2 separate regions of the Homo sapiens genome follow, and region 2 is linked to region 1. Evidence: fine-mapped expression QTL. A gene starts in region 1. The other region holds a variant in brackets. All regions are shown on one strand. Distances are between the middles of the regions.

Region 1 (14,060 bases):
TCTGGCATTCAGGTTTTTAAAAATGTCCTATGACTTGTAATAACTGGTTTTTCTGTTTACTAATCAGATTTACCCACATATATCATAAAATAGTATTAAACTTATTTAGTGAGATAACTGAGTTTTAACTTATGTGGGCTAGATGTATGATTTATAAATTTATAATTTATAGTTTATAAATTTATACATGAATGTATGAGTTCTTCAGATTTTCTGAAATGTCGAAAATGGCTTCCATGCCTCCTCCTCCCTCAGGGGACATCTGCTCGGGAGGCCTTGTTTTGGTGTCTCCTAGCCGAGCTTTCCTTTCCCCCTTGCTCCCAGTTCAGGGATCTTCTCTATAATCACCCAGCTCCAAGGTCATCTAGTTTAAAATGTCACCAGGCTTGAGGACTGGAACATCCCAGCAGAAGGGGAAGGGCTTTTTATCTTGGGGAACCTGCACAGGCCCAAGCACAGTCTGAGGACACGGTGAGGGTGTTGGAGGCCATGCTCGGTTGCAAGGGTGTCTGCCTTCACTTTGGTTTATTTCATATCTGCCCCCTAGGCCAGGGCTGGGAGAGCTGAGCCAGTGCTTCACAGTTTGTTTGTTTGTTTGTTTATTTTTATTTTTATGTGTTTTTTTTGAGATGGAGTCTCGCTCTGTCGTCCAGGCTGGAGTGCAGTGGCGCAAACTCGGCTCACTGCAACCTCTGCCTCCTGGGCTCAAGTGATTCTCCTGCCTCAGCTCCTGAGTAGCTGAGATTACAGGCGCCCGCCACCACACCCAGCTAATTTTTGTAGTAGAGACGAGGTTTCGCCATGTTGGCCAGGCTGGTCTCAAACTCCTGACCTCAGGTGATCTGCTCGCCTTGGCTTCCGAAAGTGCTGGGATTACAGGCGTGAGCCACCGTGCCCAGCCAGTGTTTCACGTTTTGTAAATGTGCCTTCTCTGGCTCTCAGGTTACTTCTGTGGGCATCCAGAAATTAATTTCAGGATATTTTAGGCCCTTTGGCCTCTGTCAGACCTGAAAGTGAAGCCAGCCTGCCTGGGTTAATGTGCTGTTGACGGCACAGGCTGTTTGCACTGGCGATGTAGGGTGCTGCCCACTGAGCCAGGGTGCCCCATGTGTCAGATGGGCCCATGGCGATGGAGCCAGTGCAGCCCACTTGAGGGAGGAGACAGGGACCGGCTCCTCTGCCTGTCCACACACATGGCAGGTCATCTTTGAGGACTCTGTTTTCTCAATTGTCAAGGACCAGAATTCCCTCTTTCCCCTCTTGCACTATGGATAAAGGCATAGACATGTTATAAGTGATTATGCAGCTTTTGTCATTAAAGATATGTAATAACACGGTTCGCCAAGGTGCTCCAAGCATTTGGTAATTATTGCATGAATTGATTTTTGTTTTTAAATCAAAACATACTTTGGTAAACATTCCTGTGAAGGGAGGCCCATTCCAAGTCTCAGAGTTGGAGTGCCACCAAGACCCCGCCTGGAGCCCCGCTGCTCTGCCAGTCAACTGATGGGCTCCTTTACCCTCTCTCTTCCTGGCAGTGCTCCATAGCGGTGGGAAAGAGGGTGAGGCCTTGCCACTCCGCGGAGGGCCCCCTGGCCCACCCCAATGCTGAAGACAAATCTGACCCCATCTTCCCACTGGGAACTTGGCCAACCCAGATGTTCCCGCAGCCCCTCCCTCCGCTCCTCGCTCCCTGGATGGGGCCCACCTCCAGCGCATTTTTCTCACTCCAAGCTCCTTCCTTGCCAGATGGCTCTGCTGGAGGATTCTGCCCCGGGCTGGGAGGGGCTGGGGACCTGATTCTCTCATTTCCCTGTGGTTTGGCGAGTCTTCCCTCGCCCCTGTCGTTTTCAGAGCGAGCCCCGCCCTTGTCTGCAGACTCTGGCTGCCTGGACAGGCAAAGGGAAATGGATGGGTCACCCTGATGCCTCCGAGCCCGGTGACAGGAGCTAAGGATGGCAAATACAGACCGAGGGGCCACCTTGCCACTGCCTGACCCTCCAGGGAGCTTGGGCGCCGTCCCATTTCTTAAACTCCTGGCAGTTGCCCAATAAATGGTGAGTCAGTGAAGGACTGTAGGGGTGGCTGCGGGGTCTGCGGGAGGGGATTTCCATGCAGAATGATGTCAATAGGTCATGTGCATGGGAATTGTTGTGAGTAAGAACAAACATTAACCAGCTTTTGCCCCTGTTTACAAGGCTGTGCTGGAGAGTGTGGAGCCGAAGTCAACCAGCCTTATCCCTTCAGGAGACCTGAATTTATAAATGGTGGTCAGGATGAATACAAACAGGATTCCTCCCCCAGTTCACGTTTGTGACATCTGGAGAGATGTATGGGTTTGTCCTGGGTCATTGTCACCACATTGGATGCAGGGGGAATAAAGGATAGGGCGGTTGTTAATACATACCCCACATTTAACCAAGAAAAGCCACAGAGGAAGGTACTGCTTCATAAAACCAATGTCCCTTGAGCATGTCCCTTAATATGCCACAGACACTATGCCAAGCCCATCACAGGCATTGTCTCCTGTCCTCACCCCACCCTATGGGTAGGGCCTGTTAGCCCCATTTTACAGAGGAGGAGGAGCGCTCCCAGAGTCACTGCCCGCAGGTAAGTGGGAGAGGCTGTGCCTCCAGCACTGTCAAGGACGGGGGCACTGGACCCCATTTCTGATGAACCGAATCTTCGTCTGAGTGGGCCTTGGTAGCGCAGTCTCACAACCTTTCTCAACTTTCTCACTAAAGCTGCTCAAGCAACAGAGGACAGAGACACTGAGGGATGTGGACACAGTCCAAGGTGGCAGCCTTAGGTGGAGAGTTCTCTGGAGTTTTACCAAAACCAAAAGTTTTATTTCATAATATATGCTTTTTGTTGTCTTACTGGGTAAAATACAACATAAAATATACCATCCTAACCATTTTTGAGTGTGCATTTGGTGACATTAAGTTCCTTCACAGTGATGTGTAGCTATCACACGCCCATCTCCAGAGCTCCTTCCTCACCACAAAACAGCTCCCCGCCCCAGCCTCCAGCACCCCCATTCCAGCTCTGTCTCTGTGAATTTGACTACTCCAGGAACCTCACAAGGAGTGGAACGACCCACTATTCATTCTTCTGTGACTGGCTTATTTCACTTAGCGTGAAGTCCTTGAGGTTCATGCATGTTGTTGTAGACGTGTTTTAATGTTAAAAAAAAAAAAAAAACGGCTGGGCATGGTGGCTCACGCCTGTAATCCCAGCACTTTGGGAGGCCAAGGCGGGCAGATCACCTGAGGTCAGGAGTTCAAGACCAGCCTGGCCAACATGGCGAAACCCCATATCTACTAAAAGTACAAAAATTAGCTGGGCATGGTGGCAGGCACCTGTAATCCCAGCTACTCAGGAGGCTGAGGCAGGAGAATTGCTTGAACCCGGGAGGCGGAGGTTGCAGTGAGCCGAGATCGTGCCACCGCACTCCAGCCTGGGTGACAAGAGTGAGACTCCATCTCAAAAAAAAAAAAAAAAAACCATCACCAAAAATATATGACACCACCATACACACTCCTAAAGTTGATGTTCCCAGAAGCTGTGCCTTATTTATTCAGTCTTCCTGTGATGCTAAGGTCACAAGCTCTGGTGCGAGAGACACTGACCAGCCAGGCCTCAGCTCCCAACTCTGGCCGAGCAGGACAGCCCGTCACAGTCTGCCTTTCAGTGCCAATGCTGCCTGGAGGCCTGCGCTGGAGGCCCCAGTCGACACGGGTGTGTGCCACTCCCCTTCAGAGAGGATGCCACCTCCAGCTTTCTGCTGCCTCACTTTGTTCTCAGAGTTTGGGGTGGTGGATTCCTGGGAATTTTCAATTTTAGTATTTATTTTTTATTTACATCAATCTATTGTCTTTTAAAAATGAGAAAACTGCCATGCAGGAAGGTTGGCTTGCCTGAGATATTACAGCCAGGAGTGGTAGACCCAAGACTGCCCAGGCTTTGTGCCTCCCTACTTCCTGCCCCCAAGCTTGGACCACATTCATGGCACCACCAGGAGGTGATTCCAGTAGGCCACCCCGCCCACCACATCACACAAATGCTGCTCATCTGAATCCCATCTGCTCTGCGTTATATTGCGTTTAATGGGCAAAATTTACAAAGCTCTGAAAACTGAAAGGTTTCTTATCAATGTGTCCGTAATACCTGACTGAACTTTATGCCCTTTAGGAGGACATTTGTGTGTTTTGCCGCAGAGCTATGAGTGTGTATGTGCGGCGGTTTTGCTCGTTGATTTGTTTTGATTAAAAAGGGCTTCTGGCCGGGCGCGGTGGCTCACGCCTGTAATCCCAGCACTTTGGGAGGCTAAGGCAGGCGGATCACAAGATCAGGAGATCGAGACCATCCTGGCTAACATGGTGAAATCCCGTCTCTACTAGAAATACAAAATAATTAGCCAGGCGTGGTGGCATGCGCCTGCAGTCCCAGCTACTCGGGAGGCTGAGGCAGGAGAATCGCTTGAACCCAGGAGGTGGAGCTTGCAGTGAGCCGAGATCGCACCATTGCACTCCAGACTGGGCAACAGAGCAAAACTCCGTCTCAAAAAAATAAACATAAAAAGAGGGCTTCTGGCCAGGCACGGTGGCTCATGCCTATAATCCCAGCACTTTGGGAGGCCAAGGTGGGCAGATCACCTGAGGTCAGGAGTTGGAGACCAATCTGGCCAACATGGTGAAACCCCATCTCTACTAAAAATACAAAAATTAGCTGAGTGTGGTGGTGTGTGCTTGTAATCCCAGCTACTGGGGAGGCTGAGGCAAGAGAATCGCTTGAACCTAGGACGCGGAGGTTGCAGTGAGCCGAGATGGTGAAAAGAGGGCTTCCAGCCTGCTGGGAGTATTATATAATATGCAGTTTAGTCACTTCTAAAGCCTGGAAAATTCTCAATTCTGAAACACGTTTGGCCTCAAGAGTTTCTGATAAGGGATTGGGACCTAGATATATAGAATTAACAGTGATATGAAAGCTGTAAAAATAAAGAGCTTAGACCCCGTTTTGTGTCTGTACATCTTTCCGTGGCATTATACTATAAAGTAGGGGTCCAGGATAACAGGTCCCCACAGAAATGAGAGCTAGAGAAGCACTGCAGCAAAAAAAAAGAAAAGAAAAGAAAAGAAAAATTATTTCCTCTCCCTTCAGCTTCGGGGAAGTCTTGTTTTAGGATTGCGAGGCACTGGCCCACTGACTTCTGGGTTGTGTTTCCAGGTCTTTGGCCCGAGACACAGGCTGTCTCTCAATGTCTGGGCTGAGAACCATTCAGGTACAGAGGCTGAAGCCACAGGGTAGATGAGAAGTGTCCCAGGAGCATGGTGGAGGGTGAGACCAAGACAAAAGGATCTAAACAGCCTTGACTGCTGGCCTCTGGGGCTACCAATCCAGGGCCCCTGTCCGTGACAGCCCCCCAGGGACAGCACCAGGGACCTCAGAGCCTGGCTCACTGGATTCATCACAAGAGAACAGGGACTTGCTGCCTTCTGCAACCATCCGAGGGGCCACCAGGCGGCCACAGGACACCAGGCTTGCCTGGGAGTCTGGGGTGCCCACCTGGAGCTTCAAGGCCCAGAGACATGCTCCGGGCCTGTGCTCTTGAGCTGGTTCCACACCTTACACCGACCTTTGTGGGGTCTGGGCCAGGAGCTGCTCTCCCCTTTGGGAAGTGAGGGTGGGTTCCTCACAGCAGCTCCCTTAATGTCTCAACCAGCTTCTCCAAAGGAGGCCGTGGTTGGGGTCGCTGTGGTAGGAGTTTGTGTTCCCCTGTGGGCAGAGGGGATGAGATCTCTGCCGGCTGGAGCTGCTGGCTGGGAGCTAGTCAGAAACAGCATTGGAAAGCCCCTTCCTTTCCCACTGTCTCTGCTCTCCTTCCCCAGGCATTGTCCTGCCTCCACACAGCCTCTCCCGCATCCCGGTGCCCTTTCCGGGATCCGAGTCAGCGTGGGCCTGGTGTCACTGAGGGGACATCCCAGGAATTCCTGTTCTTTCCCTCTGGATGGCCTTCTTGTCTGCAGGAAGGGTGGGAGGAGCTATTATATATTTCTGTCTCAGCTTTAAGGGTAAAACTCCCCTCCAAAGGCCAGGTGGCTTATCTCCTGACAGCCACTTGTCAGACACACTGAGCCCTGAATTCCCACTCCAGTGGTCTGGCATGGTGCTTCAAAGAGCTGACTTGGATATGGCAACGCAATGGGGGAAGGAAGGTTGAGGTGGCGTCTGGAAGCACAGCACGGAGTGGAGTTTTGACCCTCGCCTTCCCGCCGTTCCCAGCGTTTGAATGACTGTATTAAGGGAAATGAATATATGTATTGGGGGGTGGGGAGACGTTAGAGAAATAAATGCAGCAGCCTCTGATGTGGAGTATCTTTTTTCCTTTTGGATTCCTAGTGGGCTGTGGCATCGGTTCTATGACTTTTATCGTAAAAATGTTTGAATACTCTGATTGTAAAACTCAGCTTAGTCTAAACTGACACACACAGCACTAGAATGCAAGTCCCCACTAGAGTGTAAACTCCCCGAGCAGACCTAGTGAGCTGGAGCCCACGCCTGGGAGAGCTGACTGCATCTCTTCCCAACTCCACGTCTGGTGACGTCACCTTGGTAGCTTGAAAACAGCCATGGTGGGAGCATCTACACCAAACGCCATGGGAAAGAATCCACCTGCACAGCAGTGCTGCCTCCTGCAGCAAGCTGAAGCTTAAACAGTTATCACCACTGGGCCGGTCTCTCCCAGCTTCTAGCGCAGCGTAGGCACTCAGATATTTGGATGAACAACCTCCAAATGAAGGAAGAGGGAAGCAGCATCCTCTAAATTCAGTTCAATGGGAGTTCAACAAATACCCTGTCCTGGTGGACATGTGTTTTCTGGGGCAGCTGCCATCTGAACTTCCACCTGGGGACCCTGCCAATTCTTGTTTCTCAGGTCCTGGCCATCAGGGTACAGGCATGTTCCTGTGGGGAGTGAGTCTACAAGGACGCTTCAGGGTTTTTCTAGGCATGTGTCAGCATTGCCTAAAATTGGTGGTGACACGAGTTCAGCGTCCAGCGGAAGAGCAGCATAGATCCTAACTGGAACTGCTCCTGGACTACAACTAGGACATTGTCGGGGGTCCAGCCCAAGCATGTGCCTGATTTTCAGCCCTCCTGTCAATCTGCGATCTCCCATTGCCTCTCTTCTAAGCAACTCTCCTGTTTAAGCTGACTCAGTCCTTTTCTGTGATGTGCAACCAAGAACCGCAAGGGTTGGTTCAGGCCCTCTGAGAGCAGAGGCTGAGACGGGACTAGATGTGCGAGAGATCTACAGGGGAGCGCCTGTGAAGATGAATTGCGGGGAGGAGGAGGTGCAGGGGGAGTCTTCAGAACCTGGTGTGGGGCTGAGTGCAGCCACTGGAAGCTGGTCACCAGTTACACTTCTCAAAGCCCCTCTCTTGAGGCAAACCTTCAGGGCCACCATGAACCTCTGGTCCAGGGTATAACATGAAAATGGATCTCTGCCCTTGCAATGTTCACAATTATGAGAGAGAAAGAGAAACAACTACATCACTGCAGTAGTTTGAAAGTGCTAGGGCAAAGCCCGGCACCGATGGGAGTGCAGAGCCAGATGTACAGGAAGGCTTCCTGGAGGAGGTGAATCCTGGGAGCCCCGAGGCTCTTGGCATTTTGCCCTCTCTCTTCTCTCCAGCCTTCCATCCCAACCCAACCACACAAAGAGATCTGGCCACTTCTTTCTTAGCCTCATCCTTAGATCTGCAATCTGTGGAGATATGAAAATGTAGAGAATTGAGGATACACATGGCGGGAGCACAGGACAGAAATTTAACAAAAATTTTTTTAGAGACAGGGTCTTGCTCTGCTGCCCGGGCTGGAGTGCAGTGGTGCAATCATAGCTCGCTGCAGCCTCGACATCCCAGGCTCAATTGATCCTCCTGCCTCAGCCTTCCAAGTAGCTTGGCCAGTGGTACCCGACCTTTTTGGCACCAGGGACCAGTTTTATGGAAGAGAATTTTTTCAGGTCTGGGAGCGGGGTGGGATGGTTTCGGGAAGAAACTGTTCCAGTCTAAAGCCTGATCCTGTTCAGATCATCAGGCATCAGAGTCTCCTAAGGAATGCACACCCTAGGTCCCTTGCATGAGTAGTTCACAACAGGGTTCATGCTCCCGTGGGAATCTAATGCTGCCACTGACCTGACAGGTGGCGGGGCTCAGGCAGTAATGCTTGCTCACCTCCTGCTGTGTGCCCGTTCCTAACAGGCCATGGACAGGTACCGGTCCGTGGCCTGGGGATTGAGGACCCCTATCTTGGACTGCAGGCAACTGCCACCATACCTGGCTAATTAAAAAAAAAATTGTAGAGATGGAGGGTCTCACTGTGTTGCCCTGGCTAGTTTTGAACTCCTAGACTTAAGCAATCCTCCCTCCTCAGCCTCTCAAAGTATTGGGACTCCAGGCATGAGCCACTGCGCCCAGATCAGAACTAACTTTTATTCTGCATCTAGTAGGAATTTTATGGAAACCAGTTACTTCCCTACTCTACCACCTGCTGTATGAGTCTCAAGTGAGCAAGTTGTGGCTTAAGGAGGTGACCCGACCTGCCCAAGTACACACACAGTGAGAAGCAGAGCAGCCTTCCAGTCCAGGTCTGCCTCCGCCCCAGGCTACCCCAAACCCCCAATGCGAGGGCGTCTCAGGTGCAGACACTGAGTGGCATAGAGCCAGCACAGAGGGGACTTGACAATAGGAAGGAAGGTCTTACACTTTTTCCTGGAATCTTCTTTCTAAACCACCCTATTTTAATGCATCAGTTCTGTTCACATCTCTGTGAGGTAAGCAGAGGAGAAATGAGGCTTAAAGAGAATATTCCTGCCCAAGCCAGTAATTGCTAGGGCCTGGCTGGTGGGTCTAAGACAGTCCCTTACCACTGAGTGTGGGTTCTGCCTCCCAACCTCAGAGTCCTCTTTGCAGCTGGCGTGAGGCATAAGAAATCACAGCCCTGGGTGTCTGAGAAGAAAGGATCATAGGAAAAGCAGGGACACAGCAGGAAAGTGAGCTCCTTGGGCCTCAGCTTCCCCCACCCTGCAGCGGGAGAAGCATTTTCCTCCCACTTAACAGAGGACCTTTGACCAAGCTCAGAAAAGTCCCAGCTGGTGGGGGCAGGGAGTGGGGCTTGTTGAATGGAAGAAGCGCTTTTCCTCTTTAGAGAGGCTGCATGATTCCACTCCCCTTTCTCTGCCAAGCTTTATCTTTGCTTAAGAATTCACACAACTCCCCAGGGGCCCCGCTACAGCTGCTGCTCCTCCTGTCTTCATTGATAGGTAAGAAATGCACCTGATTTAAACTGATTTAAACTGGCCATGTTCTAATAAGCATTTTGTCCAAACAGGCAGCTGCTGGAGCCAGGGGGCTGAAGTGGGGCTGAGCTTCCCGCTGGTGACTTCTCTTTGCCCAAATGAGGCCAAGGGAGAAGTGGCAGGGCCAGCAAGGGGCTAAAGGCAGAACAGCGTGGGGGAAGGGGACCAGCCTTTGCCACCACCCCACCCCCAACCTCTCCCCAACTTCTTCCCCCCAACCTCCCTCGTGTCCAGGACCAGTTTCTAAAGATGAGTGAATTCCAGTTTCAAAAAAAGAATGGTAGGCAAAGAGTGTCTTGGTTGTGAAAAAGGACAACCAGGAAAACAAATGAAGTTGATCACATGCGTTGAGCCCCTGCCTTGATGCTAATTAGTGCCCTGGCACAGGTGGTGGGGCTGCATTGCAGGCCCTGCCCCCCGGGACTCACAGCTGAGCAAATCACAGCAACAGGGACAGAAACCGAGGGAGCAGGACATGCACCCCATCGGCCTGGGGTGGTGTGGAGACGGCTTCAAAAGCAGGTGACATGCTGGGCACGGTGGCACTTTGGCAGGCCACGGTGGGAAGATTGCTTGAGCTCAGGAGTTCGAGACCAGGTTGGGCGAGACCTTGTTTCTATTTAAAAAAAGAAGAAGAAGGCTGGGCGCAGTGGCTCACGTCTGTAATCCCAGCACTTTGGGAGTCCGAGGTGGGTGGATCACCTGAAGTCAGGAGTTGGAGACCAGTCTGGCCAACAAGGTGAAAACCTGTCTCTACTAAAAATACAAAAATTAGCCAGGCATCATACAGACGCCTGTAATCCCAGCTACTAGGGAGGCTGAGGCTGGAGAATCGCTTGAACCCAGGAGGCGGAGGTTGCAGTGAGCCAAGATCTAGCCATTGCTCTCTACCCTGGGCAACAAGAGTGAAACTCCGTCTAAAAAAAAAAAAAAGAAAAGGAGGGAGGAAAGTAGAAAGAAAGAAAAGAAAGAGGAAGAAAGGGAGGGAGGAAAGTAGAAAGAAAGAAAAGAGGAAGGGAGGGAGGGAAAGAAAGAAGAAAGTGAGGGAGGAAAGTAGAAAGAAAGAAAAGAGGAAGGGAGGGAGGGAAAGAAAGAAGAAAGGAAGGAAAGTGACATTTGACCAAGGTTTTGAGGGCTGACTACGGGTTTGAGAGGTAGAGGGGATTGGGAGAGCGCATTCTGAGTGAGAAAACGTGCTGGGAGATGGGTAACAGCAGCGTGTGCGGAGAAACTCAGTTGCGGCTGAAGAATAGGATCCAGGGGTGGAGAAGGTGGTGGCTGGACACAGGTGTGTTGTGTGTAGGATAGGCATGAAGAGGAGCGGATAGGGCAAAGCTAGAAGGCTTGGGCAAGGGGAAATGGGATTGGAGAGGTGACTGGCGCTGACCCAAGAGAGGACAGACGGGGTGACCAGAGTGGAGGATGAGCCAAGCCTTGGCACAGACCCAAGCGGGTGGAGGCCCCGGGCAACACCGGTCACCACGAGGGCCTCTACGAAGGGCTCTGTCCTCCCACGGGGATTGGAGGTGGGTAAGTGAGACAGGGCGGGGTGGAGGGTGAGGCCAGGCAGCGGCGGAGAGAGAAAGTCCCACCCCTGCGGGCGTTCCTTGCGGCCCGGCCGACCTCGCGGGCTTGGGCCTGGGCGGGCACCGACGGAGCGGCCCTGGCTGCAGCCTCCCGGCGCCAGCGAAGACAGGTAGGGAGGCGGAGGGACTGGAAGCCCCCGGGCGCCCAGCGGCGGGGACCCCGCACCCCGGGGCTTCTGCAGGAATTTGCTCGCCTGGCTCACGGCGACGGGGGTGTCGGAGAAAGTGGGGGCCGCAGAGAAGACCCCGCCCCGGCTCGCTCTCCGGAGGTGGGCGCAGGGTCATCGCTCGGCACCGCGCGCCCCCCGGCCTGGAGGAAAGGAAATGCAGAGAGCCGGGGAGCTGGTGCGGGACGGCCCCGGCGCGCACCCTCCGCCCGCTCGGACCTTCCCTTCAGGCGAATGCCGCTCCCGGCGCGTGGTACAAGCGAGGCCCTGGAGACCGTGCGCCCCTCCCGGGAGGTGCCACTGGGCCGCGGGCCTGGAGCGTCCGGGAGCCCCAGCGGCTGCCGGCACCTGCGCGGCCACCCCGGGCCTCCCGTGGGAACCGCGCCTCTCCGCCTCGGGGGTGCGCGGCGCGTTCCTGGGGTGGGGACGCGGGGTGCCTGGTCAGGGCTGGACCGATGCAGAGGGGGGCCGTGGGCGGGGGCCACGGGGACGGGCGTCTGCGGACTGCGGCGGTCCCGGAGTCGGCTGGGGACCCTGTAGGGGGAGGCTTGGTCGGCGGCCACCCGCCTTCCCGCCCTCTGGCGCCTAGGGTCGCCGCCTTCGGCCCTAGCTCAAGGCAGACGCGTTCCCCGGGAACAACACGTTGAGGGCGCCCACCCTGCGTGCCCGGGGCCACCCGGTCCCTGCCCTCGGGCGGCAGGAGAGGTCGAGCTTCCACGGCCCTCGGAGTAGCCCCGTGACCAGACCCGGACTGGCCTTGGAGTTGAAGGGGTTGTTTGCCACCAAATGAACCGAAAAAACTGAACTTTTCAGACTTCGGAATGGCAGATATGGGCTTGGAGTTCAGTGAAATTGCAGCGGAGGCGGTGGTGTTCTGAGTAATTACAAGTAAAATTCTTCTTTCACCCGTCTTTTCCTCAGCCTCGCCCGCCCTAGCAGGCCTAGCCTGGCCCTAGCAGGGGGCTCCTGCTCTGGGAGCTGCCCCCAGCAGAGCAGAGGCAGGGCTCTGGCAGCAACCCCCTTCCCTCACCCTCCAACCCCAGGAATCTCGAACTTGACCACGAAAATAATGACTCAATGACTCACTGTGCCAAATTAACGAGTGTGTACATTGTTCAGTATGCCAGGTTACATTTCTGCTGAGCTTGGCTTCTGTATGCTGTCTTTTATCCTTGTAAGCAGAAGTCATTTTATATCTTTAAAAAATTAGAACATTGGTAGAATTACAGATTTTAAAGTTCAAACCTGCACGCTAGTACTTGTTTAATGTTTTGTACTGAAGGGCGCACATTGTTTATGTCATTCTGCGATACAGCGACATGTATGTACACATACACACTGCACAGCGTGTATACCGACTGGACACCTGCACCAAATAGTACACACCAGACTGCACATGGACCCGCCCCGCACACTGCACATGCACTTTGCATGCATGCACACATCAAACCACAGACACTCCACACACACTGCACTGCACACTGCCCTGAGCACACTACACTGTACTGCACACTGCACTGCACTTTCAGGGCTCACACGCTGCACCACGCACACTGCACGGCGCACACTGCACTGCATACACACGTTGGTTATGGAGGCTGCTTATGGAGCTTCCCTGTGCAGAGAAATGCTGGCTTGGGTTTTAAATGGGCTACAATTAACACTTTTAGAGCATTTGGGTTTTCAAAGTGTCTTCAGAGACTTGATTTTTTTAAAGCCTATATTAGGAGTTTTTAAACATCTGATGTAATAGCTTTTTTAAAAGGAATCTTGCTGAATTAAAAGTGAGTCTAATTACTCGGATTCTGAACTTGTTTTTCAACCACATAGAAGTATTTTTAATTGCTCTCTCTTTTTTTCCCCTCTGGAACTCTGAAACAAGTTGTTCTTGAACTTCTGCCAGTTGCGGATGGGCCATTCCTTTCTTGCTCACATGTTGAGCCGCCCGGCGGGGCGCCCTCACGCTGTGTTCTCTGCGGTGCACCGAGGCGCACCCGGCTGTCCTGTTGCGGGTCTCCTGGTCACCTGTGGGCCATAGGGAGAGACGCGCCCACACACTCTCGCCCGCGCCCAGGACAGCTGCGGGAGCCCCGGGCCGCTCTAACCCAATGCGTCTCCCGCAGGCTGAGATGCGGCTGCTCCTGCTCGTGCCGCTGCTGCTGGCTCCAGCGCCCGGGTCCTCGGTGAGTGCGGTCCTGCCCCGGCCCCCGGAGGAACCTGCAGGGGAGTCGGGGGCGGGGACGCGCGGGCCCGCAGGCAACGTCCCCAGGAAAGGGGCGATGTCAGGGAAGCTGGGCTGGGAGGAGGCGAGCCCGCACCGCTGAGCTCCCTCAGAAAGGGCTGGGCCCTTGAAGCCAGCTGGCCAGGGTTCCCAGAACTGCCCGCCCGGCTGCAGGGCGCAGTGTGTAGGAATGGCACCTTCCCAGGGCTTCCCTCCTTCAGAAGGTGGTGGGAGCACTCCATGAAGTCCCCGCCAATCCTGGCGGGTGCAGCCAAGGTGCAGGGCTGGGTGGTCCATCCCACCAGACACCTGTCTTCTGCCTGGAGCCAAACACGGCTTCCCTAAGCTGGGGTGTTTTGGCCTAGAGGTTTGGGGTGCCAGTCGTTTCCATTCCCCTTGGGGTAGCACCTAGGGCAGGGCTGTCCTATGGAACCTTCTGAGATGGCAGAAATGTCCTGTTTCTCTGCTATCCAATAGGTAGCCCCTAGGTCCATTGAGCACTTGAAATGTGGGTGAGGTGAGTTTTAATTTTACTTGACTTTAATTAATTTAAATTTATTTTTAAAATTTTTAAGTATTTATTTATTTTTGAGACAGAGTCTCACTCTGTCACCCAGGCCGGAGTGTACTGGCATGATTTCGGCTCACTGTAACCTCCACCTCCTGGGTTCAAGTGATTCTTCTGCCTCAGCCTCCCAGGTAGCTGGGACTCCAGGTGTGTGCCA
Region 2 (14,851 bases), 41 kb after region 1:
GCTGTCCTGTGCTTTGCAGGATGTTTAGCAGCATCCAGGGCATCTACCCACTAGATGCCAGGGGCACCCTCCCCAAAGTCATGACAATAAAGAATGGCTCCAGACCCACTGCCAAATGTCCCCTGGTGGCAAAATCTCTCCTGGAGCTGTGAACCACTGGACTACACTCAGCTTTGGGGACTTTGGTGGTCTTTTACCCTAGATCAATTGGTTTTATATTTGTCCATTCATTTAGCAGCCATTTTTTGCCTCCTCCTTCCCTGTAATGTGTCAGGACTAGGCTAGGTTCTGGGGATCCTGGGGTCACCTGAGCCCCCAGAGTACTCCCGGGCAGATGGCCCAGTGTCCCAGGAGCTCCAGATGTGTTTTGTTGCAACTGCTGTCTGTGCACAGAGGAGTGTCAAGGAAGAGGGCCAGGAAATGACTTTGGCTGCACCTTAATAGCTAAGGATGGCAAAGGATGTTCTTGGTAGAGGAAGCAGCAAGTGCCAAAGGTGGGCATTTGAGAAAGGACACCAGGATAGGAACCGGCCTGTGCACTGGCTGGGAGAGGTGACGCGATTGCGGAGGGCATCTGTGTCTTGTGTGGCCTTGAGCCCAGGGAAGGCGGTGGGAGCCGCTAGAGGTGTCCCCACTGGTGTGCTCAGTCCAGCCATCCCCTGATCAGCCTGTCAGGCCTGCTTCTCCATGTTGGCCTCTCCTGGATCTTTCCAGCAGCAAACATGCATAGAACTCCCCTCTTCACAACCACCTTCCATTGAGCCTCTATGTCCCTGCAGACCCTATGCTGACATAGTGTCCCCTTTACAGCTGTCCATGTTGGTTGCCTCTGCCTGTTCATCTCCCTACTCACTTCTCAGGGCCTGCAGTGGGGCCGCATGTCAGCCCCTGTTCCAGGACACTGTCCTGGCCAAGGTCACTGCCTCTCTCCCTAACTCCACTGGACACCTTGCAGTCTTTACGTGACCTGTAGTGTCGTTCTGCTTGCCGTATGCTCCTTCTTGAAATTCTCCCTTCCCTCTGCTCCAGGAACTACTGTCTTCTGCTGTGCCTCAGGGCCTGTCCTTGGTTTCTCCCCGTGTGACTTGGACCACCTCATAGACATGCACTTCGCTGCGTCAGTGCGATGCTGACACACTATCTGGGTCTGGACTCTTGAGCTCCAGACTTCAAATCTGAGGCCTCCTGCTATCTCACAGGCACCCCAAATTTGAAATAGCAGAAAACAACCTCGCCATTCACCCCAGCCTTGGATCTCCCAAGGTTGGAGGGGCACCATCATCACCCAGTAACCCAACCTAGAAACCTTGGTCATTCTTGATTTCTCCCTGTCCTCCACCTGTTTGCTCTCAAGGGGTGGGAACGGTTGGCTCTGGAATGGCCTTTGATTACCTCTTCCCTCTGTCTCCCAGACCTCCAGAGGCCCTTGATGGCTCTCCCAGTGTCCTCTCTCCTCCAGGAACGGGCTACCTGTGCAGGCTGATGGCCACCGTGTCCACCAGTCCCCAGATGGCACGCTGCTCATTTACAACTTGCGGGCCAGGGATGAGGGCTCCTACACGTGCAGTGCCTACCAGGGGAGCCAGGCAGTCAGCCGCAGCACCGAGGTGAAGGTGGTCTCACCAGGTAGGAAAGGTCTATATCCGGGGATGGGAAGGACATTCCCCAGTAGATTTACTGGTTCTCAAGGGCTGGCTCTGCAGTCTGAGGGACTCTGGTTTGAATCCTGGCTCACCCTGCCAGTTGCTGGTAGTGTGACTTGGGGCAAGGGGCTTACCTTCCTGAGCCTCATTTTCCTCCCGTCTACAGTGGGGCTGCTCCACCACCTGAGAGGGCTGTAGTGGAGATGAAGGAAATGATGCTCTGCTGGGCCCCTGGAGATAGCTTAATAGACATTAATGCATGCAGGACATTCAGACTCACCGATTTTGAGACATATGACTGACTGGAATTTCATTATAAAACTTAAAACTTAAGGCAGACCACTAAAATCTGTCCACTCTAATCCACTCTAAACCACTAAAATCTGGCCACTTTATGGCCGTTTGACCATATAACCCAGAAAGGAAAGGGCAGGGATTATCATCACCATTTTACAAATGAGACAGGTATGCAGAGAGCGTAAGTGGTGTTTCCACCGGTCACACCGCAAATGTGGCCTACCTGGGACTAGAGCCCATGTCTTTTGACTCCCCATGTTTTTTTTTTTTTACCCCCACGAAATTACTATACTTGTACCTAAGTGGAATCTTACTTGCATCATTTGATATTTGATATTGTAGCCTTACCTCCTCTAGCTACTACTCTATCATACTTCAACAAATCCAAATTGCCTGTAAGATGCATTATTTTTGTACCAAGAAAAAAATGCTGCCAGTGAAACGACACAATTCTGATACCATCAATTAGGATGCAAACCAACTTGAGAGATGTGAAAATAAGTGCATATCAGAACTGATGAAACAGATTGTGGTTCAGAGTTCACACTTACAAGAGATATGTTCAAATAAGCAGGAGGGAAAGGGGGACAGGGCTTTGCTCGTCCCCCAGCCTGTGCTTCCTTGTGTCCTTGGTTCTTGTTCACGGAGGGACTGAAGACAGAGTGGTACCTCGGGCCAAGCTGCCAATTCTCACAGGCCTGATACAGACCTTGGGGGAGTATGCCAGGCTCGGAGGTGCCAGGGCCCTTCCTGCCTGGTCTTCTGGGCATTCCTGACAATCAGGGCTGCAGCGCCATGCCAGGAGCACGGTTACACTCAGAGGGGCAGGCCTGGCTGCTTCCTGGCTGCCAGGCTGAGGGTGGAGACTGGCCAGTACTAGAAGTTGAAGGTCTGGCTGAAATGTTGCTTTGTGAGTGGGACTGACTTGTCGGCTTCCTGTCTATGATCTCTTTAGAGATCGCCTCCCCAGGGCCCAGCTCAGTGCTTGGCATCACTAGGTGCTCATGTTGTGGCTGGAAATGTTGTCCAGCGGCTTTTTTCTCACCTGTTGCTCGGCGAGCGGGAGGGAGGGTTACAGGGTTCCTTCCTGCCGCTTCGCCAGCCCGCCGCCTTGACCTCTGTCCGGGGCCTCGCTCGGCCCACCGTCTCGCTCCGCCCACTTGGCCGGGCAGGCTGCGCTCCGCTGACCCGGATCCCGCACTCGTGGCGGCCCCGCGCTCAGCGCACGGCACAGGCGGCTTCCGCACTGGGTGCTAACGTATAGACAAGGGGAACATGGTGGCGCCCGAAAACTCGGAGATGCCAGCAACCGCGGAGCCCCAAGGGGGTGTTACAGGGACAAATGTTCCCGCCGCTCGCAGCTCGGTGAACGGGAGCGTTAAAACTCGTTCTTCCCTCCATTCCCTCCTGCTCACCCAGCTACAAAAGCCGCGACACTCAGATACATGGTGACTAAGTGCCTGCCTGCACAATGATGGAGTTACATTGGCGAAAGCACCACACTCCAGGGACTACTTTTCACCTGTATCATGTCCAGAAAATTGACCTTGTCTACATAATAACCAAATCAAGGCTGTGTGACAAAGCAAAATGCAGATTCACAGTGAGAGAACTGTCAAGAGGACCTAGACATTATGTTTGCGATTAGCTCCAGATGGGATTACATGGAAAACCAAACTACAATGAGAAACTTGCCTGATACCTGGTCACCACGCTGAAATGGCCTGAGATGTGTGTCCCAGATGGGACAGACATGGCCTCAGTCTGGCCACTCTCCTCCGGTCCTCTGCTGGCTGCTCTCACCTGTTCATTTTTTGTTGGGTCATACGGTGTGCGGCTGCCTGACCCTGCCCTACTCATGGTTGGGTGGCACATTGAATTTCAGTGTTAGCACCAGGGTAGGAGGCCTTGGGGTGGTCAGGCTGAGGTAAAAGGGACATAGCTCTACTGGGAGGACTTCTCAACATCGCTGTGAAGTAGGTTGCTGTTGCTGTTATTAGTCCCATTTCACAGATGAAGAAATGTGCATAAAGGGCTTAAGCAACTTGCCCAGAGTTACCCAGCTGGCAAGTGGCAGAGCCCGGATTGAGCCCGGGCAGTATGGGTCCAGAGCTGGTGTGCTTAATCACTATGCTGAGTTCCCACTATGATGGGTCTTGGGCTGTACCAGCTCAGAGTTGATACCAAAGTTACAGATTTTTAGAAACAATATGCATTAATGGCTTTGTTATCTATATAAATTTAGGTAGGTAATAGTCTGGTTATACCAATATACCAAACGTTTGTAAGGTTGTTCGCTGCTAGGTACAGTCTTTTAGTGGTATTTTGTGAGTAAACAAGGGGAGAGAGAAAGATAAGCTTTCTCTGGCTGCTTGAGGTCTGACTTCAGGGAAGGTACCACTCTGGTCTAAGTCAGCTGAGTTTTAAGAACCCCTTCCAGAAGAGAGATGAAGCAGTAGAATGAAATTTTTTTTTTTTTTTTAAGACAGAATCTTGCTCTGTCACCCAGGCTGGAGTGCAGTGGTGTGGTCTCAGCTCACTGTAACCTCTGCCTCCTGGGTTCAAGCGATTCTTCTGCCTCAGCTTCCCGAGTAGCTGGGACTACAGGGGCACGCCACCATGCCTGGCTAATTTTTGCATTTTTAGTAGAGATGGGGTTTCACCATATTGGCCAGGCTGGTCTCAAACTCCTGACCTCGTGATCCGCCCGCCTTGGCCTCCCAAAGTGCTGGGATTACAGGCATGAGCCACCACACCCAGCTGAATGAAACTTAATAGGGAGTTATGAGATACAGACGTTCCTAGTAAATTCAGAGGGAGAGAAAACAAG[GGCTTT/G]GCTTTGTTCTCAGTGTAGTTAGTATTAGAGCCACCGTTAACAGGACTGTTTTCCTATTACCTTGTCTAATATGCATTGCTTCCTCTGGGGAAAGTGAAAAACTGGAAGGATGAGGACCCAGGTGACTAAGATAAGCTGGTGATATTGAAGGGACAAAACTTTGATGGTTGGAGGAACCCAGCAGAGAAAGGGAAAAGATAAGAGCTCTTGCTAACTCAAAATTTTACTTGGGGCTGATCCTACCTGCTCTCCCAATCCAGAGGCAAGAACAGTTGTCATTTAGTAATTCAGGTCTCAAACATAAGGAGTTAACTTCAAGAGATGTTTAATTATCCAGTCAATAAATATTTGGGAGTCTAGGAAGAGCTATTCAGTGGGCTGAGGCCACAAATAATAATGGGAGGACCACTGCATGTTGAAGTGAGGCCAAGAAACAGGTAGAAATCATCATCCCTCATAGAGTTTGTACGTATGGTTAAAAGGTTACAGGGTAAGTGCACTTCGTTTTCAATCTGGCAGTTATAATGCTGTGTTCCTTTGAAGGAAATGAAATGGCAGGTGAGAATTTTCAGCATACACAGAGCTTCCTCACCACCTTCTCTCTCCCCTGTCGTTCTGCAGCACCCACCGCCCAGCCCAGGGACCCTGGCAGGGACTGCGTCGACCAGCCAGAGCTGGCCAACTGTGATTTGATCCTGCAGGCCCAGCTTTGTGGCAATGAGTATTACTCCAGCTTCTGCTGTGCCAGCTGTTCACGTTTCCAGCCTCACGCTCAGCCCATCTGGCAGTAGGGATGAAGGCTAGTTCCAGCCCCAGTCCAAAATAGTTCATAGGGCTAGGGAGAAAGGAAGATGGACTCTTGGCTTCCTCTCTCTGGCTGGCAAAGGGAGTTATCTTCTGGAATACATTAGCTCTTTCAAAAACCCACCCAGTGTTTAGCCTCAACGGCAGCCAGTTACCAGCTTCTCTCTGTAGCCTTCAGCAGTGTTTGCATCTCTGACATAACCACAGGCTGCTGTTTTCAAGAAGAGCAATCTGTTTGGATAAGAAAAACCTTTACTTTACAGCTTCCCTTTATAATTTGTTACACAGGAATAGTTAAATGCATTTGTTTGTTTGTTTTTTGAGACAGAGTTTCACTCTTGTTGCCCAGGCTGGAGGGCAATGGCGCGATCTCAGCTCACTGCAACCTCCGTCTCCTGGGTTCTTGATTCTCCTGTGTCAGCCTTCTGAGTAGCTAGGATTACAGATGCCTATCACCATGCCTGGGTAATTTTTGTATTTTTAGTTGAGATGGGGTTTCACCATGTTGGCCAGGCTGGTCTCGAACTTCTGACCTCAGATGATCTGCCCGCCTCAGCCTCCCAAAGTGCTGGGATTACAGGCATGAGCCACCACGCCCAGCCATCAATGCATTTTTTTTATTTTTTTTTTGAGACAGAGTTTCGCACTTCTTGCCCAGGCTGGAGTACAATGGTGCGATCTTGGCTCACTGCAACCTCCACCTCCTGGGTTCAAGCGCTTCTCCAGCCTCAGCCTCCTGAGTAGCTGGGATTACAGGTATGTGCCACCATGCCTGGCTAATTTTGTATTTTTAGTAGAGACGGGGTTTCTCCATGTTGGTCAGACTGGTCTTGAACTCCCGACCTCAGGTAATCCGCCCGCCTCGGCCTCCCAAAATGCTGGGATTAGAGGTGTGAGCCACTGTGCCCAGCCCATCAATGTGTTTTAAAGCTAGCTGTCAGGGTTCCACTTAATTTAAAGCTGGGCAGGGAGATGTGTAATGATTTCAAAGTTAACACCTGTTTGTTTTCTAAAGGGCATGCCAAGTCCTGCTGTATCAGGGAAGTATTCTGTGCTAAAATCAGCGATGGTTCATTGCTCTAGTCTCTCTCACCCTTCTAGGCAGTGCATCAGTCAGCTCTAAATCTGGTGCAGAGGGTTAACAGCATAACCCTTGTTGGCAAAATGGAATAGATGTTAAGACCTCAAATAGGGATTTGGGATGAAACAGCTGCAGTTAGCACTGTTATCTGAGCATGAAAGAACTGGAAACGCTCCTTACGTCGAGATGTTGGACCTTGAAGCCCTCCTGAGGCCAACATGCAAATCTGGCTGTGACGGTTCATCTGACACCTGTGTAAAGCTGACCAGCCTGCTCTGTACAGTGACAATGAGGAGCCCCTCTCTTCCTTAAGTAGGAATCTGTGAAGCAAAATGTTTGCTGCCAAAGACAAATCAGACTGTCAGTCATTAAAAACAGCATTAGCAGGATGAGGATAGCAATGGGGAAGGGTTGTGGGCAATGCAGTAACAGGGAAATGGCTTCAGAAATGGTTTGAGTTGGAAGACAACATTCTTCATCTCTCAGGACTTCTAATTCCTTGATGCTAAAAGAAGAGGCATGGATTCTATGAGCTTCCAAGTCCCTTTCCACTTTAACCTTCTACAAATCTTTCAGAGGACTGCCTAGTAGCAAAGGTTATTCCTGGACACAGGAAAGACGGGCATTACAGGGACCAAAGCTCTGAAAGGTGACTTTTATTACCAACACACTGGCTGGAAAAGGGACAAACCACATCACGGGTGAGTGATACTTCTCAGTCTTCTCTACTCATTCAACAAAGGAAATGTGGGCTGGGGCAGAGGTCTTTTTTCATTTAATACTGGAAAAATATTGAAGAGCATCCATGTTCACTTATGGCTGGTTTTGCTATAGAAATTGGAAAATAAAGGCCACTTTTTTGAAATCCCCAGTTTAATTAAACCAGATTTTGGCCTATTGGTATAAACACATCAGAAGGTAAGTTTGAGGTTAGCTAGCAGCTAACTAGTTCTAATAGAACCAGTCACAGAATAGTGGGCTAAGATTAGAGGTAAAACTCATTCTAGGCCAGTGGTTCTCAACTTTACCATATTGCGAGCTTAAAAAAAAAAAACACAACCTGGGGGGTCCCCCTGCCCCACTAAAATTTTGATTTAATTGGTCTGGAATATAGGCCAGGCGTTAGGATTTTAAAAAGATATCCTCAGGTGATTCTATTGCATAGCCCAGGTTGAGAAGCACTGCCCCACCCCGCTGAGATTCTGCATTTCTAACCAGCTCCTAGGTGAAGTCCATGCTGCTGTTACAGACCACACTTTGAGCAGCAAGAATCTGACTTTAGAGATACACTCAGGATTAAAGTATGAATGAAAATATGAATCTTAAGGGTATTTTTCTAGTCACTAAACTAGGGATTTACAGCAGCAGTAGAATGGAGAGTAAGACCAAAAGAACGAAAAATAAATTCATTTACTAATAAAGGAAAGGGGAAAGAACAGCCCTTCATGGGCAAAAGCTTCTACCATGAACATTTATTTTTGTTAAAGCAGATTATAAATTTTCATCAGTACAAATATATATAACTTACATTTGATTGTAAGGCCAACGTTCAAAAGTAAAAATGAGATGAGCTCTCTTATTGTTATCCGAGGTCAAGAGGCTGCAACTGTCAAGGGGATGTTCTCACCAAAAGGGGGTTTGGGGGAAGAGGACACACACAAAGCTAATAAAACCAGAATCCCCATCCCCACAAAACTCATGGGAACAAAATTTAAAGGATAAAACAAAACCCACCAAGACCCATATTACAAACCAATATGGTAACCTGTGTTCCCTTCTATGGTATGATTATGTCATGTTACCTTAGTGTTAAAGGATTAACATAAGGAAACTGCAGCAATATATAAAAGATATATTCTCTATAGAGCATATTTCGATTGATTCCATTAAAATAATGACATTAGAATTCCATCATAGGTTTAAAACCAGGACAATACTGCTTTTCCTTTATTTAAAAAAAACTACAACCTAGTGACTGTATTGGTCATAAGCATGATTGTTGTTGCAATGTGCTACTTACAATGAATGACTGACAGAAAACAAGCTAGGGATCCTGTCTGCAGCTTCCAGCCTTTCCTCTTTTTATTTCAGTAGGCATCAATGATAAATCAATCTTATGTACAATTTCTTACAACTAGCCCCTTTACCTTTGGCAAGATTACTTACAACTCATACAACTTCTTAATATCTGAGAACTATTTAAAATATTCTAAATGCATAAAAATAAAGATTTTGGCTTTTGATATATATAATATTTATTCTGTTACTCAAAATGGAAGCTCAACTTCTCCCCCAAAATATAGCTCTGCTGGGCAGTTGCTGATATGCCCTCCTGGGAATTCTGGCAGCATAGCGTGCCTCTCTGTTCCCCAGCCTGAGCACAAACCACTCTTCTTGATCTCTAATACAGGCCACTACTGACAGGAGGCAGGTGAATGGCCTGAAAAACAAAGGGAGATTGCTTTGCTTCCTGTTGTGTTTTACATTTCAGTAAATGTGCTTGGAATATAGATTCTTGTTCAGATACTTTGCCTCTCTGTTGCCAGAGATTTGTAAGGGGGTAAGGGAAGAGGGAGTACAGAAAGCAACATTTCCTTGACTTCTTTAGCCTAATTGCAAGGCAGCTTTTCTCTAGGAATGCTTTTTCCCATGTCTTTCAAAATCACCCCTCACAGTACTCTGGGCCTGGACTTGTTCCTTGGGACCTTTGGGATTAGTGAAAAGAGTACTAATCAGGAGACAAAGTCTGTTTTGCTCCTTTGACCGCTACCCCCTGCTCCCTGTCTGGTATGGACAAGATACATAGCCATAATGATTGCTTAAAGTTCAATTTCAAACGTCTTCTGTAAGTCACTGGAGAAAGGGTTGGTAGGGGAGGGATTAGTACGCTGCTTGGACTTATTTTCTAATGCAGCCCACTGGGCTTCAAAAGGATCCACTGGGCAGGTGCCTGTAGGAACCTCTGTATGCCTGTCTGCTGAGGCCAACCTGCCATCATCTACACCATTGAAAGCTGCAGAACCGTTGAGGTGCTGAGCAGGAGGCTTAAAGAAGGGACTGGTGGTAGCACTGCTTGCCTCGTAGTGAGGGAATGTCTGCTGCCTGACCAGGCTGGGTGACTGATGGGGATGGGCAGCCTGAGGGTGGCCTGCAGTGCCAAATACGTTGGCCACCATCTGGGAGGGAGTGATGCCCACCACAGGCACATTAGGGGCTGGATAGGGCATTCCATTGGCCACAGGATAGGACTGGGCAGGGACAAAGGCTGGTTGCAGGGCTGGGACCACACCCACTGGCACAGGCTGAGAGGTGAGGAATGCATTCCCTTGGAAAGGTGATGCTGGCTGGGAGATGGCAGTGGGTGGAGGAGGCTGGAGAACTGGCTGCAGAGGAGCAGCTGAGGCCTGGGGCTGCTGAGCCCGGACGCTCTTAGACACCTCTTCTAACCATCGGTCGGCCTCAGAGGGAGTACGTCTATGACCGGCCTGGAAGAGACCTGGAGAGGCAGCACCAGAAGATTGACCCCACTCGGTCCCTGGAACCAACAAGATGAGAGACAAAAGAATCAGTTAGGGGCATCTTTCCTCACCTTATAATCTTGGTTATTTGAATGATCCTAACATGTACAACATGTCCCCCCCTAATGGGACATTTTGTGGTTTTGATAGGTAGGAGTAAAGTCTCTATTACCAACTGGGATTTTGTGGTAGGATGAAGAAAACTTGTCAAGACCATGCTGCTGTGTCAGCCACACTGAAGCACTGTCTAGATATGGCTCAAATGCATTAAACCACGGCAGCTGACTGATGTCAGAAACCCCTCGCTGTTGCTATGGCTCATCCACAATACAGAAACTAGCTGGTTGTGGTAGCTCACACCTGTAATCCCAGCTACTTGTGAGGCTGAGGCAGGAGGACTACTTGAGCCCAAGAGCTGGAGGCTGCAGTGAGCTATGACTGTGCCACTGCACTCTGGCCTGGGCAACACAGTGAGAATTCTGTCTTAAAAAAAAAAAAAGGCCACGTGCAGTGGCTTATGCCTGTAATCCCAGCACTTTGGGAGGCCGAGGTGGGCAGATCACCTGAGGTCAAGAGATCGAGACTATCCTGGCCAACATGGTGAAACCCCGTCTCTACTAAAAATACAAAAATTAGCTGGGCGTGGTGGTATGCATCTGTAGTCCCAGCTACTCGGGAGGCTGAGGCAAGAGAGTTGCTTGAACCTGAGAGGCAGAGGGTGCAGTGAACCAAGATACTCCAGCCTAGTGACACAGCGAGACTCCGTCTCAAAAAAAAAAAAAAAAAAAAAAACACCTAGCTTGCACATCCTCTAAAGGGCCCAAGGCAATTCATCTTCTGCTCTAACAGAGCAAAAAGAAAATAACCAGTGACCTGGCCATATCTTGCTGGCCTCTGCCTGGCTTCCAGAAATATGTTGTCTTTTTGGTGAACTGCCTTTATTACTATGTTAAAACCTTTTGAGGCCGGGTGTGGTGGCTCACACCTGTAATCCCGGCACTTTTGGAGGCCAAGGCGGGTGGATCACGAGGTCAGGAGTTCGAAAACAGCCTGGCCAACATGGTGACACCCCATTTCTACTAAAAATACAAAAATTGGTTGGGCATGGTGGCATGCACCTGTAGTCCCAGCTACTCGGGAGGCTGAGGCAGGAGAGTTGCTTGAACCTGAGAGATGGAGGTTGCAGTGAGCCAAGATCATGCCACTGCATTCCAGCCTGGGTGACAGAACAATACTCCACCTCCAAAAAAAAAAAACTTTTTGGTTTTATAATTAATAGATGTTTTTTATACAAAACTAGAAAGTACAAAAAAGCAAAAATGAAGTGCTTTTTCTAGCACTTTTTGTAGGCCTCCTATTGTAGGAGCAGGGCCCCCTCTTTCTACAGGAATGTCTGCACATCACCAAATCCGGTGATGGATTCTCTGAGGTGGGGCCCTGGAATCTTTTTTTTTTTTTTTTTTTTTTTTGAGACAGAGTATTGCTCTGTTGCCCAGGCTGGAGTGCAGTGGCGCAATCTTGGCTCACGGCAAACTCTGTCTCCCAGGTTCAAGCGATTCTCCTGCCTCGGCCTCCTGAGTAGCTGGGACTATATGCGCATGCCACCGCGCCTGGCTAATTTTTGTATTTTTAGTAGAGATGGTTTCACCATGTTGGCCAGGATGGTCTCCATCTCCTGACCTCGTGATCCACCCACCTCAGCCTCCCAAAGTGCTGGGATTACAGGCATGTGCCAACACACCCAGCCGGAATCTGTATTTTATAAAAGCTCTATGGGTGGGGCTCTGTTCCACAGTCCTGTTCCACAGTCCTAATGACTATCAGTCTGATCTCTTTTGTTCTCCTTCACCATCCTTTCTTATGTAAGCAACTTATTTCTAGGAGGGAACATAGTTTTCCTGAAAGGATTCCTCCCTAGTTCCCACTCAGCTAACTGGCTGAGTTTTAGAACCAGGGTCACTTATCTGATCCCAGAATCCTCAACACCATCTGTGGCCACCTTACCCGAACATGTGGCTGCAATTTCCTTGTTAGCAGCATCAGGGGCATGGGCCCAAGGGTTGGTTTCACGCACAGGCATTGCTACGGGTGCTAGAGCAGTATGGGCTGGCTTAGCAAGCACATGGAAGGCTGAGTCAGTGCCATTAGCTACAACGGGAGCAGACAACATCAATGGAGTTAATTCATGCAGGGTGTACAAGTGACCCCTTGGAGCTGTGTCAGTCAGGTGAATGTACAATACTGGTGGAATGGATAAGAGAGAAGAGTTGATGTTTGGGAAAACCATGATATCTTGCATTGGATGTACATACCATTAGGCAAAGAAGCAATCAGAGATTGTAATTTTTAAATGGTTGTATAGATAAAGTCAAATAACTGTTCTAGGAAAATATGTGCATGGGGAGTGGGGAAATGAAACCTACGAAAACAATTTCAAATTAAGGTGAACAGAGCTGCTGCGTCTTAGGAGCAGCAAAAAATATCTAACTATTCTAGATATAGCTTAGCCTTCGGCATAATGAAGTAGGTATAGCATTTCCCTCTTCTTCACTTTTCCAAAAGGTCAGATTATGTTAACAATAATACTGGTTAAAAATAGGCCAGGTGTGGTGGCTCACGCCTGTAATCCCAGCACTTTGGGAGGCCGAGGTGGGTGGATCACCTGAGGTCAGGAGTTCGAGACCAGCCTGGCCAACGTGGCGAAACCCCGTCTCTACTAAAAATACAAAAATTAGCTGGGTGTGGCAGTGTGCACTTGTAAACCTAGCTACTAGGGAGGCTGAGGCAGGAGAATCACTTGAACCCGGGAGGCGGAGGTTGCAATGAGCCTAGATCACACCACTGCACTCCAGCCTGGGCAACAGAGTAAGACTCCATCTCAAACAAAAAAAAATTACTCTTTGTTTCCTCCTCAAAAGTTAAAATGTATATATGATTCGTTATTATGTGCTAGTCATTAAGCTAATATTTTACATGCATCATTTCATTTAATTATCTCAAAAACCCTACGAGTCTGGTATTATCCCCCTATTACAGATGAGAAATCGAAGTTGGTATGTTTTCATTTGCTTGATAGATTTCTAATTTGCTACACAATTAATTTCAACTTTTTTTGAAGGTTTTTTTTTTTTAACTCTCCTGGTAACTCACAGAACATTTTTTAACAAAGATTTTTTTCCCCCTCTATGATGTTTACAATATCACAACATACCTACTATTCTTTCCTCATCTCCCCTTGTTAAAATCTGCTAACCCTTGTTCCTTTTACTCCAGATACCTATATTAGTTTCTTCTCCTTAGCCCAGCTCTCAATAACATTCAGTTTGGTGTAGACAAGCACCCTCCCCTGACCTACAATATAATTATATCCTTTTTAGGACTGGACAGCCATGCCTATGGTGTTGGTACTATTTTTTTTTTTTTTTTTTTTTTTTGAGATGGGGTCTCGCTCTTGTCACCCAGGCTGGAGTGCAATGGTGTGATCTCGGCTCACTGCAACCTCCGGCTCCCAGGTTCAAGCAATTCTCCTGCCTCAGCCTCCCGAGTAGCTGAGATTATAGGTGCCTGCCACCATGCCCGGCTAACTTTTGTATTTTTAGTAGAGACGAGGTTTCACCATGTTGGCTAGGCTGGTCTCGAACTCCTGACCTCTGGTGATCCGCCTGCCTCAGCCTCCCTGTTGGGATTACAGATGTGAGCCACCGCACCCAGCCGGTGTTGGTACTGTTTACCTAGAGTTTGTCTAAAAGACTGCCTTTGCTTTTTTGGTGGCAAAAAAATTTTTTTTTTCACCTAGAAACTGGGAGCCCTCTAAAGGCAGGGAAAGGAAACTGAAATATTCAATTTTGCACACTTAGTGCCTTGTAGGCTGGCAGAATCAGCAGAATGTAACGGGTACTATATTCAGGAGGACCTGAGTTTAAATCCTGTCTGTAAGATTTGGGCAATTTACTTATCCTCTCTGAGCCTCTTTTTTTTTTTTCATCTGTAACACCTACCTCACAGGCTTGTTGTGGGGATTAAATGAAATAATGCATGAATACCTACCACAATGTGGCAAGCAATGTGTAAGTGCTCAATAAATGGTGCCTATTATTACCGGTATTATAAATGTTTGTTAGATGACATGAAAAGTCATTTGGTACACATGACTATGAAGGTTTATTAAAAAGAAAAAGAAAAAGACCCTTGGAGAAAAAGTGTGTAGTTCTTCCAGTAGAAGCAGGGCACTATCTCTGGAGTAAAACTTCCGCTGAGCTCTCTTTCAAAAGAAATGGAGAAACAGCAATTATAGCAGCTCAAATTCTACAAGTCTGTAACTTAAGTTACATAAATTCTTTGCTGACCTCTGAGTCAATATCCACTATTTAGTCAGTATCTCTGAAAACAACTTTTAACTCTTCAATGCCACAAAGGCAAATTTTAAGACACTTGTTATAGAAGATGAACTAAAGAGCTCAAAGGAGTGCCTTTTTCTTTATTAGCCTCTTTGACAGGGCAGAGACTAGGTGAGTCCAGGGCTTCTCAACATTGGCACCACTGACATTTTGGGCTGGATAATCCTTTGTTGTGGGTGCTGTCGTCTACACTGAAGGATGTTTAGTGGCATTCTTGGCATCTAACCACAAGCCAGTAACACCCCCAACCCCCAACTTGTAAAGCCCCAAAATGT

The links. PIP is the estimated chance that this variant, and not a neighbour inherited with it, causes the effect.
Region 2: its variant is fine-mapped to the expression of PAPLN in whole blood (TOPMed, PIP 0.99).

Annotation. Positions count from the first base shown.
Region 1 is chr14:73,226,536-73,240,595 of GRCh38, forward strand. It overlaps PAPLN (papilin, proteoglycan like sulfated glycoprotein), which reads left to right and starts at 10,971. Exons shown (of 27, transcript NM_001365906.3): 1 at 10,971-11,057; 2 at 13,238-13,297. The coding sequence starts at 13,244. RefSeq lists enhancers at 526-1,421, 5,374-5,443, 9,244-9,816, 9,817-10,388, 10,962-11,532 and a silencer at 9,606-9,900.
Region 2 is chr14:73,267,098-73,281,948 of GRCh38, forward strand. It overlaps PAPLN (papilin, proteoglycan like sulfated glycoprotein), which reads left to right. Exons shown (of 27, transcript NM_001365906.3): 26 at 1,460-1,626; 27 at 5,398-7,526. The coding sequence ends at 5,567. It overlaps NUMB (NUMB endocytic adaptor protein), which reads right to left. Exons shown (of 13, transcript NM_001005743.2): 12 at 12,184-12,327; 13 at 8,119-10,196. The coding sequence ends at 9,481. Among named protein-coding and RNA genes, the nearest start is that of PAPLN-AS1, 29 kb to the left of the region's middle. RefSeq lists an enhancer at 9,431-9,931. The variant GGCTTT/G (reference allele first, on the strand shown) is at 4,771.